Linked DNA regions of Homo sapiens. The protein of the gene in region 1 interacts with the protein of each later gene in a pairwise test. Each region holds a gene or a part of one and is shown on either strand. Other genes may lie near its edges.

Region 1 (5,016 bases):
TACAAAAAATACGAAAAAAATTACCTGGGTGTGGTGGTGCACACCAGTGGTCCCAGCTACTTGGGAGGCTGAGGCAGGAGGATCGCTTGAACCCTGGAGGTTGAGGCTACAGTGAGCTAAAATCATGCCACTGCACTCCAGCCTGGGTGACAAAGTGAGACTTTGTCTCAAAAAAAAAAAAAGTACTTTTCCAAAATACTTATCCAGGCCAGGGGCAGTGGCTCACACTTGTAATCCCAGCACTTTCGGAGGCCAAGGTGTGTGGATCACCTGAGGTCAGGAGTTCGAGACCAGCCTGGCCAACATGGCGAAACCTGGTCTCTACTAAAAATACAAAAATTAGCCGGGTGTGGTGGTGTGCACCTGTAATCCCAGCTACTCAGGAGGCTGAGGCAGGAGAATCACTTGAACCCAGGAGGTGGATGTTGCAGTGAGCCAAGATCGTGCCACTGCACTCCAGCCAGCAACAGAGTGAGACTCCATCTCAAAAAACAAACCAAAAAAACCCGAAAATACTTCTCCGTATCCCACTGAAACACTAGTTAAGGTATTCTAAGGTAACTGAGAGCTAAATGGTGATTTGCCACTCCTTTGGCTTGGTGGGGCTGGAAATCCCTTTTATTCTCCCATGTTGTAATGAGATGTCTTTGCTCACTCTTTTTTTTCTTTTTCTTTAAATCTCAGAAGGAGGCCCCAACCCTGAGCACAACAGCAACCTGGCCAATATCTTAGAGGTGTGTCGCAGCAAACATATGCCCAAGTCAACGATTGAGACAGCACTGAAAATGGAGGTGTGTACTGTTTGACATGCTTTTTATTGATCACAGCCTCTACCGGGCTCATGTCTGGATGGCCAACAAACACACTGTAAATTATCAGAGGGGCCAAGTGCAGTGGCTCACGACTATAATCCCAGCACTTTGGGAGGCTAAGGTGGGTGGATCACTTGAGGCCAGGAGTTTGGAGACCAGCCTGGCCAGCATGGTGAAACTCCATCTCTACTAAAAATACAAAAATTAGCTGGGCGTGGTGGCATATGCTTGTAATCCCAGCTACTGGGGAGGCTGAGGTGGAGGATCGCTTGAACCCAGGAGGTAGAGATTGCGGTGAGCCGAGATTGCACCACTGCACTCCAGCCTGGGCGACAGAGCGAGACTCTGTCTCAAAAAAAAAAAAAAAAATTATCAGAGAGAACGGTAGCAATGTAGTTGACGCCCTCAGCCTAGAGTCTTCTGAGAGCTCACCGTCCTTGGTCATTGGTTCTAGGAGCACAACTGGGAGTAGGATGCATAGGCAGTATGCAGGGCCATACAGTCAAGACCGGGACTGCTCAGCCAAGTTGTAGGGAGATGAGGTATTATAGAAAGAAGGGGCAGTGTGGGAGAAAGCCCTTACGTTAGGTGGAGGAAGTGTTTGTTTTTCAGATGTTTATGCCCTAAAGGAGAAAAGCCAGTAGAAAGGGAGAGGATGGGGGTGATAGAGATGGTGGGAGGGGCAGGTATATAGAGTCCACGTAAGGGTACACCTTTCTCTGGGGCAGGTAGGGAGGCTCTGAGGAAGTAATAGTTATCTTAATAGCTCAAAATTATTGAGTGCTTCCTGCAGGCTAAGCATGGATAAAAACTCTATGTGTGTTATCTCATCGAATCCTCAAAACCACCGTAAGTAGAAACTGAGGCACAGGAATGTTAGGTGAGTTGACTCAAGTCGCATAGAAAATGACAGACTTGAAACCAGATAGTCAGACTTTAGAGCCTGTGCTCTAACCGTTATGCTTATTGCCTTCATGTAGGCCATGGTGCAGAGAAGGTGGTGGAGACAGCAACTATTTTCCCCACCTAGTGGCCCTTTTTACCTTTGTGAAAGAGGAAGGGAGAAGTTATGAGTTGAGAATTCCTGGAAAGTTGCAGGACAGGGTGCTTGGAGTGGGGAATATTGAATACATGGACAAGGGATGAGTAGGGGCATGGAAGGTCCAGAAGAGATTAGTCCCTAGAGCTCTGGATTAATTGTTTCAATTTTGAGACCATGCTGTTTTCAGCAGCTCTTACGACAAGGCCTAGGTGTGTGATATTTCACAGCAGTACTCAGCAGCCCAGGGTAGGGACCTTGAGACTTGACCGGTGGGTTTCTTACAGGATGGGGGTGTAGGAGGATGAGTCTGAGTGGGATTGGGTAGGGACTAGATGTGGCATTTGGTTAGGGATGGTAGGAAGCAAAGCTGAGAGATGGCTGATGGATTGTTCAGGGACCGGAGAAACAGACTCCTTCCAAGTTAGGGGTAGTACTTCCTGTTACCTCAAAAGTTGGTTAGAGGGTGGGGACAAAAATAAAGATTGAGAGCTCAGGCTCCAGCCTAGAGAGCCCATCCCATGGAGTTAGTTTTGCGATACTTGTAGTTCTGGGCTGACATGTGGGAAGGAATTGGGAAACAGGAAAATGTGCTTGTGTTGTTTATTGCAGAAATCCAAGGACACTTATTTGCTGTATGAGGGTCGAGGCCCTGGTGGCTCTTCTCTGCTCATCGAGGCATTATCTAACAGTAGCCACAAGTGCCAAGCAGACATTAGACATATCCTGAATAAGAATGGGTAAGTGTGCGTCTGGGAGGAGTGGTAGGGGACAGAGCCTTTATGTTCCAATTCTCTGCAAGGCAAGTACTGTTGATCTCTGCTAGTGTTTCAGGGTTTTGTTTTTTGTTTTTTTGTTTTTTGAGACGGAGTCTCACTCTTGTCGCCCAGGCTGGAGTGCAATGGCATGATCTTGGCTCACTGCAACCTCTGCTTTCTGGGTTCAAGTGATTCTCCTGCCTCAGCCTCCTGAGTAGCTGGGATTAAAGATACCCACAGCCATGCCCAGCTAATTTTTGTATTTTTAGTAGAGGTGACAGGGTTTCATCATGTTGGCCAGACTGGTCTCGAACTCCTGATCTCAGGTGATCCACCTGCCTCAGCCTCCCAAAGTGCTGGGAGCCACCATGCCTGGCCATGTTTCAGGTTTTAAGCACACTTGCTCCTTAGCAGAATCTAATGAGTTAATTGACTTTCCCTTAATGTAGTTTCTACTAGCAGGATCCCAAAGACTTGTTCATCGGATGTAGAAGGGGATCTTTGTCCTATTATCCCCATCTGTAGCCATATAATGCCTAAGTCTTAAAATGCTCCACCAGGACTGGCATCTTAATGGCACAGGAAATTATCAGCTAAGTCTGCTTCCTCCCAACTGCAATCAGGGCAGAAAATCGAGCGTGGGGACATTCTTGGGCTGTTCCCTTACCCAGCAGCAGCTGCATTTTCTCCTTGAGGATGCGATCTGCTCCATGTCTGTGTGTACTTCATAGACTGGGTAAGAAAGAGACAGTGATAGAATGATGAGCTTTATGGAGGCTGAGCTTCTAGAGGCATCCACTCATGCCAGCCTGTTTCCTTCCCTGTCAGAGGAGTGATGGCTGTAGGAGCTCGTCACTCTTTTGACAAAAAGGGGGTGATTGTGGTTGAAGTGGAGGACAGAGAGAAGAAGGCTGTGAACCTAGAGCGTGCCCTGGAGATGGCAATCGAAGCAGGAGCTGAGGATGTCAAGGAAACTGAAGATGAAGAAGAAAGGAACGTTTTTAAAGTAAGCATGAAAACATGGGTGTTTGGTGGGCTTCCGGGAGGACCCTGATAGATGCCTTATGCATGCCTCTTGGTTTCTTCCTTCATGTGCCCCAGGGTATAGGTGAGACAGTTCACATATTGTACAAACATTTATTAAGTGAATACTGAATAGGACCGACTCTAGTGAGGACTATGAGAAAGAAAGAGTCAAAACATTGAAAACGATGTCCCTGCCAGTGAAGAGCTCAAACCCAGTGATCCATTCCAGTACTGACATTCAGGACTTTGCAAGGTCCTGTGTGGCTTTGTCTCATTACCTCCTGGCTCCTCACCTCCTGACTTTCCTTTATCCCTAGTTTATTTGTGATGCCTCTTCACTGCACCAAGTGAGGAAGAAGCTGGACTCCCTGGGCCTGTGTTCTGTGTCCTGTGCACTAGAGTTCATCCCCAACTCAAAGGTGCAGCTGGCTGAGCCCGACCTGGAACAGGCCGCACATCTCATTCAGGCTCTCAGCAACCACGAGGATGTGATTCACGTCTATGATAACATTGAATAACCAGGCTACATGTGCCCCCGGGTTCCTTCCTAGAAATGTGGCAGCCCATTCCAGCACACAGGCTTCTGCAGCAATCTCTGAGGGTAAAGCCGGTGGGAGGCTCAGCAGGCCAGGAGGCCCAAGGACAGGACTTGCGACCTTGAAGCCAAAGGAATCTCACTTGTGGGGCCTCCTTGTCAGCTCTGCTGCTGTCTCAGAGCCATCTGGATGAGTGTCCCGACACCCTCTCGGATGCAGGGCAGGACCACCCAGCTGGTCAGACTCTGATGTTGGGTAGCTGGCCTCTGTGGGGATTGTAAGTGCCCTGAGGCGCTCTGTACTAGAAACTGCTCTTAATAATAACGGTGATTATTGGTTGCTGCATTGCTGTTGTATGGCTCTTGAGTCTTCCTGAGTTTGTGTCCAGCTGTTGGGATCCTCTGGACTAACTTTCAAGTCCCTAGGCTTAGCTCTACTACTCCAATCCCAGGATTATTTTTTTAATTGGCCATAGAAATGTAGTTGTATCCAGGCACTCCATGGTCTGATGCTGGTCTTACAGCCTAAACCTGTCATTCATTCATGCAACTAATATTTCTGGAACACTAGCTATATACCAAGAACTGTACTTATCTAGAGCATAAGCTATTCAACTGGTGTCCTGTGTTAGATCCTGCTCTAGAAGGTAGGACCTGAACACAGGACTGCTCTTTACTGGAGCTGTCCCAGGGCAGTGTGAGCTGCTGTGCAAGCATCTGTTGCTCTCTTTGTGTGACTTCTGTGCCCTTCTTTCACCAAACAGCTTAAGGTTCTAGCCCAGTAGGAAATCAAGTGCCAGTGATAAGGGACTTGGCAGTGGCTCACACCTATAATCCCATCTACTC
Region 2 (7,045 bases), on another chromosome or scaffold:
ATACATCTATCCTGGCATTGGGGTGGAGGTGGCCTGATGCTGAGAACCTCTCCCCTTCCAGCAGCCACCAAGGGTGCAGTCACTCCCATGGGCCCTCTACTTTCTGGTCCAGCCAGCTGCCCTGCTCCTGGGAAAGCATCACTCAGGCTCCCTGAAGTCCAGCTCCCTCTCTGGGTTATGGGGCTATGGGGGCCACAGTAGGGGGCTAAGAATGACAAAGAGCAGATCCCATGACCAAAGTTGTGGCACAAGGCGGGGATGGTCTTCCAGTCCCAAGCCCCTAGCCCAGGTGCCCCTCAGGGCAAGTTTCTCATAGACTGAGAAAGAAGAGGGTTAAAAAGAACCCAGATCTGTTCCCCAAATTAAAATCTGGAACTAGGAGACCCCTTCAGAGCTCTAAGGAGGTAGTTTAAGGACAAATAAAAGGCGCACAGAGCAAGGGATAACCTGCAGCTTATCGGGTACACCAAGAGGTTCTGGCTGAGCCTGTGGGCAGTGCCCATGCCATGGGCATCTCCAAAGGGGGTCCTGGGAGACTCAGCAGTGAGGGGAGAACAGCCATTCACAGTCCTCCCTCCCCAGCACCAGGAAGGCTGGGACTATGAAACTGCAGGGCTGGGCAAGACCCAACTCTAGCCCTACCATGGCTCTCCTGAATGCAGGAGGGGATATTGACCACGTGCACCCTGGATTCGCAGACTTGGGGCATCACCACTCCTGCAAGTGCAGGCTGGGAGCCCCTGGGTGAGGCGGGAACTCAAAAGGGCTGACTGGCAAATCTGTCTCACCAAGCATCCCCAAAAAGGCAAAAGCTGGGCCCGGGATCCCGAGCACTGACTCTGCACACATGACTGATGGAGGTGGAAGGGGGTGGGAGGTGGAGGCAGGCTGGCCCCTAATTGCTTGCTCTGACAGCTCAGTCTAAGGAGGGTTGGCTGAGATGGGCTGGGCTGAAACAGTCTGGATATTCACAAAGACCCCAGGGTGCTGGGCTCTGTCGCTGTTAACTAGCGACTGTTTTTTTTAAATTAACTGGCCTCTCTCCCTGGAAAAGCATTCCAATGGAAGCTCCTCACTTAGCTTCATTTTCCCAGCACCAGCCAGTAAAACCCAGTGACCTTGATACGATCCACAAAAAGAAGTGAATTCAGTTACCTCCCTCCCTCTAGGAGTTTTACAGACTAAAGGAATTTTTAAAATCAGATACACTTTGGTAAATACTGACCTTGTCCCCCTCCCACACCCTTCTGCCTTTGACACTTCCATCCAAGAGGAAAACATGATTTGGTTGATTCCAGGAACGAAATTGCCTGGTTTTCCCCCTCCACCCCTGGATGGTCACACAGCTGGCTCCTGGCATGGGCAGAAGTGTGGCTCTCAACAAGGCTGCGGGGAGCAGGTCTGTGTCTATCTCATCTACCCATGTAGATTCCTGGCTCCCTCTGAACACAGCGAGGACTTCTCACCCCTGTCAGGTGTGGCTGGTGGCTCAGACTTTGGGATAACTCTGAGCAGGACTATGGGTCTCAGCTTAGCAGGTCCCCTCCCCTGCTAAAACCACATTGGCAGTGGTAATGAGACTCTGAGTCTTAACTTCCATCCTTTTGGGAATACCCCACAAATTCTAAGCCCCCTTGCTTCCCCTGAGCCCAGGTATGTCATTCCTACACACACTGATCGAGCTTGTGTGTGTGTGTATATGTGTGTGTGTGTGTGTGTTAATGTGACATGCATGTACTGATCCGGAGAAGCCTTTATACCAAGAATAGAGCTGGGATCTCAAGCCCACCCTCCCAAGATCAGACAGCAGAGTGAACCAGGAGGCCACGACAGGCCTTGTGTCAGATGGCAGACGATGCAGCAGGAAGCAGAACCACGGGACGTGGGACATGGGATGCTATGGGCAGCCAGCTGAGGGCTGGGGTCTGAGTTCCTCTGAAAAGCAGAGCCCACCTCTCCCCAGCTGCCCTGACACCTCCCCAGCCAGGGCTGTTGGGCTGGCCTGGATTCCAGGAGCCCCTCCCCAGGCATCTCCCTCCTCCATCACACGGAGACTAGGAGATACGGCAACAGCCATGCACCTTCTCCTCCATCTCCTCTATGGGGGCCTTGAACTTTAAGAGTGGGGGATCTCCGCTGGTGACCGTGTAATATACCGAGGTCCCATTGCTGCTGTACGGTGAAGTTCTGCCTCCGATCAAGGGGGCCTTGCCTTCACTGCTACTCTCGCCCGTCCTGGCCATGCTGCTGCCCAGGTGTGTGCTAAGGAAGGGGTGGCTGAGCAGCTTGGCTGCAGCCCGCTGCCGCTTCAGCTCCAGAAGCGTCTGAGGGCTCTGTTCCTTGTAGCTGCTCCAGGGCGGGGTGGCGTCGGCCACGCCAGGGTTGCCATAGGCCATGCTGTAGTCAGGCACCTCATGCACCTTCCAGACATCCCCGTTGGCCAGCGCATACTGGTAGGCACTGACCGGAGCCCGGAGGCCATTCTCAACAGGCATGTCCAGTTCACCTCGTGGGATCTTGGTAGGAAATTCGGAGAGTAGCACGGGCTTCTCCAGCCTGGGGTTCTGCGAGTGAGAAGGACAACATTACCAGCTGGCTGGAAGATCTGAACCTACTATCCACCTGTCTCTCTGCTGAGGGCATTATTGTTTGGACTTTTCCTCTATCTGTTTTCTCTCCCTGGGTATCGGGGCCAGGGTTTTCCTTTGGGGAACCCCCAATCTATGAATTTCCGTACAGTTGACCGACCCCTGGCCTTGCTCCAGGGCCTGGATCATGACCCAAGGCCTAGCTAGTCAACATATTTCACTACAGGGATTGGCCCAGGGATGAGTTCTTAACTGAAATTGCTTCAGTGAAGCAACCCTGGGACTTTTGCTAGAACAACTGGGAAAGAGAAGTTTCTGTAGGAACTGTGGGTAGTAAGAATGACGTAAGCTGAGGGCTGGGGAGATACTATGTTGAAGGGTCTGCTTGCAAGTAAAGTTGGCATGAAGAAAGGCTAAGAGAGACTGCATCCTGATGACCCATTTGAAGTCCAGGATCCTTCCAGGCTCAGACTTTTCAGTTGCACAAGCCAATAAATTCCTTGTGTGTAAGTCCATTTGAGTTGGGTTTTTCAGTCACTTGTAATCCTTCCTCTGTATATGAAGCATATCTCACAAAGATTCTTACCCAGGGATCCTGTACACCTAATAATCCTTGGATAACAAGAGTTTGAAAAGTAGCTGCTTCCTAAAAACTATAAACTAAAAAATAGATACATGCAACAACATTTAAAGCACAGCAAAAATCACCATGAACAGGGAACAAGGTCAAAAGACACATGAAGAAACTAGGAAAATATTTTCAACATATATTACAGAAAAGAGACTAATTTTCTAAAAGTATAAAGAGCTCTTAAAAGTCCTTTTTTTTTTTTTTTTGAGACGGAGTCTTGCTCTGTCTCTCAGGCTGGAGTGCAGTGGCGCAATCTCTGCTCACCGCAACCTCTGCCTCCCGGGTTCAAGCAATTCTCCTGCCTCAGCCTCCCGAGTAGCTGGGATTACAGGCACGTACCACCACACCCAGCAAATTTTTGTATTTTTGTAGAGATGGGGTTTCACCATGCTGGCCAGGCTGATCTTGAACTCCTGGCCTCAAGTGATCCACACTCCTCAGCTTCCCAAAGTGCTGAGATTGCAGGCATGAGCCACCGCACCCAGCCAAAAGTCAATTTTTAAAAGCCTATCTACCCAATAAAAATAGTAGGCAGGGGATACTAATATGTAGCCCACAGCAAAATATATAGATATACATGGCATTGGAATAATATTCATCCCCACTAATCGTTAATACTATAAAAATTAAAACAACAAAATATCACTTTTGGATATCACACTGACAAATACGTTTAAAGTGTGTTATTACTCAGTGTTGGCAGGGGTATGGGGAAATAAGTGAGAATGTAAATTGCTACAGTCTCTTTGATGGACAGTTTTGCATCATCCTTCACTGAAATTTTTTTCTTTTTTTCCTTTCTTCTCTCCCCAGCTCTTCAGTAAAAAATAAAAACAATAATAATGATAAAAATTTTTAGAAAAGATTGTATACTTTGCACCAGCAAGCCCATTTCACAGATTTTCTCTCTCATTAGTGCAAAGCCTGAAAGTCATCATTGGGCAAGCAGGACACTGTGGCCAGTACTTCTATTGGCATGCTCTGTAGCTGGCAAAAAGAATGAAGGAATTCTCCACAAGCTGGCATGGAAAGATGTCCAAGATATATATATATAATCTAGTTTATAATCTAGTTTTCTAACATATATTTATATATAACATACATATATAAATATATATAAAACGTACATATATAACATATATGTACATATAACATATATATGTATTTATATATAACATACATATATAACATATATAACATATATATGTTATATATATATATGGTAATATGTGATAAGGCAAAGAACACTTTCCATAGTAAGTTTCCATTTATGAGTGTGTATTTCTTCGCTTTCTCCTTTTAGAGTCAGGGCCTCACTATGTTGCACAGGCTGGTCTTGAACTCCTGGTCTCAAATGATTCTCCCACCTCAGCCTCCCAAAGCACTGGGATTACAGGCATGAGCCACCGAGTCCAACCTTTTTTTTTTTTTTAATGGCTCCTTCTGAACTATGCAGGCAGACTGATGCCATGTCATGGAGAGACCGTTTCTTGGTGGTCCTAGTCAGTGCTTCTCAAACTTTGATGTGTATGTGAGTTGCCTAGGGATATTGTTAAAATCCATATTCTGATTCAATAGGTCTGGGTTGGGGCCTGCAATTTGGCACTTCTAAGAATTTCCTGCTGATGCTTAGAGTGGCAAAGATCTGAGACACTGATCCCATCTTGGATGCACATTGGCATCATCTAGACAGTTAAAAAAAAACATGTACAGGCCGAGCGTGGTGGCTCACGCTTATAATCCCAGCACTTTGGGAGGCTATGGTGGATGGATCACTTGAGGTCAGGAGTTCGAGACCGGCCTGGCCAACATGGTGAAACCTTGTGTCTACTAAAAGAAAAACACAAAAATTAGACAGGCGCAGTGACGCAGGCCTCTAATCCTAGCTACTCAGGAGGCTGAGGCAGGATAATTGTTTGAACCAGGAGGCAGAGGTTGCAGTGAGCCAAGATTGCACAACTGCACTCCAGCCTGGGCAATAAAGTGAGACTCCGTCTCAAAAAAAAACCATATAGAACACCAATCTGAAAGCATCACATATTATATAATTCCACGTATATAACATTTTGGAAAAGCAAGACTTATGAAAACAGTAGAAGATCAGTGATTGCTAGAGTTTGGGGAGGAAGCGTAAGTAGAATACCAGGGCTGTTTAGTGGGACAGCCCTGGTCTCTTTCACCAGTTGTTCACAATCTCAACTGTCTAATATAACCACCTAAACCAAGTGGCGAGAGCATTCTGTGTGACACTATCATGACGGACACATGACATTATGCATTTGTCAAAACCCACAGGAGTTACGACACAAAGAGCAAACCCGATGTAAACTATGGGCTTTAGTTCATAATAATGTATCAATATTGGCTCATCAGTGATAACATATGTACCACACTAATGCTAGTTGTTAATAACAGGGGAAACCAGGGTGGAGGGGGGTGTATATGGGAAATATCTGTACTTTCCACTCATTTTTCTAGAGTTCTAAAACTGCTCGGAAAAAAAAAATCTATTAGTTTAAAAAGAAAAAAATCCCTGCTGGGTGCAGTGGCTCATGCCTGTAATCCCAGCACTTTGGTAGGCTGAGGTGGGAGGATGGCTTCAGCCTAAGAGTTGGAGACCAGCCTGGGCAACATAGTGAGACCTCATCACTACCCAAATATTTAAAAATTAGCTGGGCATGGTGGTGCGTGCCTGTGGCTCAGCTACATGGGAGGCTGGGCAGGAGGATCACTTGAGCCCAGGAGGGTGAGGCTGCAGTGAGCCATGTTTGTACCATTGCAGTCTAACCTGAGTGACCCTGTCAGAATGAGACCCTGTCTCAACAAAAGAAAACAAAACCCACCTATATCCATCTCCAGTGTCAGAAATCAGAGCATTGAAGGAAGAGGAATTAACTCCAGCCTGAAGGATGTGGGTTAGACGAAAGAGGTTTTCTCATGATGCAGGGAACTTCTAAATGTACTTATCTGCCTAATGCTTAATGAGGTACAAATTATGGGCTGAGTTCTATACAAATAAGAACACAATTGACCCTAGAACACCCTTTGTGGTAGGCACCATCATCTTGGCAATGTTGAACTGAGATACTGGACAACAGGAAGGTTAAACAAAACCCCCACATTTTGTGTTCTGGGGAATGGCTGACTGCACAGAATCACCCTTCCCCATAGGATTTCCAGAACGCTCAGACGACCCCTCCTTTTCCTAGGACAACCCAAACACAGTCCCCCAAATTCTCATTCTTTTCCTCTGAAATGATTAAACTGTCAATTTATCAACCGAAATTAAATGCTTGCTAAATGATTTTTTTTTTTTTTTGAGATAGAGTCTCACTCTGTTGCCCAGGCTGGAGTGCAGTGGTGCAATCTTGGCTCACTCCAACCTCTGCCTCCCAGGTTCAAGTGATTCTCCTGCCTCAGCCTCCCAAGTAGCTGGCATTACAGGCACCTGCCACCACGCCTGGCTATTTTTAGTAGAGACAGGGTTTCGCCATGTTGGCCAGGCTGGTCTCAAACTCCTGACCTCAGATGATCCGCCTGCCTGGGCCTCTCAAAGTGCTGGGATTACAGGCGTGAGCCACTGCGCCCAGCGGTAAATGATTTAACCAAATTTTAGTTAAGCTGCTCCCCTCCCCACAGGATCCTGGACTTTGACTCACCCTGAGGGTAAACAAGCACTGCAATGCAGAAAAACTCTCCTGAAGACCGTTCTGGAAATGGGCTGACCACCAGACACACATTCCTGGTCAACTGTCCAATTACACCACCTGCTCATCCCACCCCCAACCCTCAGTCCTTGCAGCCTCTGTCTTCCTCCCTAGGAAAC

Evidence for each region.
Region 2: the proteins of TACO1 (region 1) and PPP1R16B interact in binary tests that used the Homo sapiens proteins (3 or more experiments, as listed by UniProt).

What each region holds. Positions count from the first base shown.
Region 1 is NC_000017.11:63,603,850-63,608,865, forward strand, and holds the end of TACO1 (translational activator of cytochrome c oxidase 1), read left to right. Parts: intron 1-684; coding exon 685-791; intron 792-2,463; coding exon 2,464-2,591; intron 2,592-3,437; coding exon 3,438-3,615; intron 3,616-3,952; coding exon 3,953-4,153; 3' UTR 4,154-4,516; downstream 4,517-5,016. UniProt on the Homo sapiens protein: Acts as a translational activator of mitochondrially-encoded cytochrome c oxidase 1.
Region 2 is NC_000020.11:38,913,676-38,920,720, reverse strand, and holds part of PPP1R16B (protein phosphatase 1 regulatory inhibitor subunit 16B isoform 1 precursor), read right to left. Parts: intron 2,565-7,045; coding exon 2,055-2,564; 3' UTR 1-2,054. UniProt on the Homo sapiens protein: Regulator of protein phosphatase 1 (PP1) that acts as a positive regulator of pulmonary endothelial cell (EC) barrier function. Involved in the regulation of the PI3K/AKT signaling pathway, angiogenesis and endothelial cell proliferation.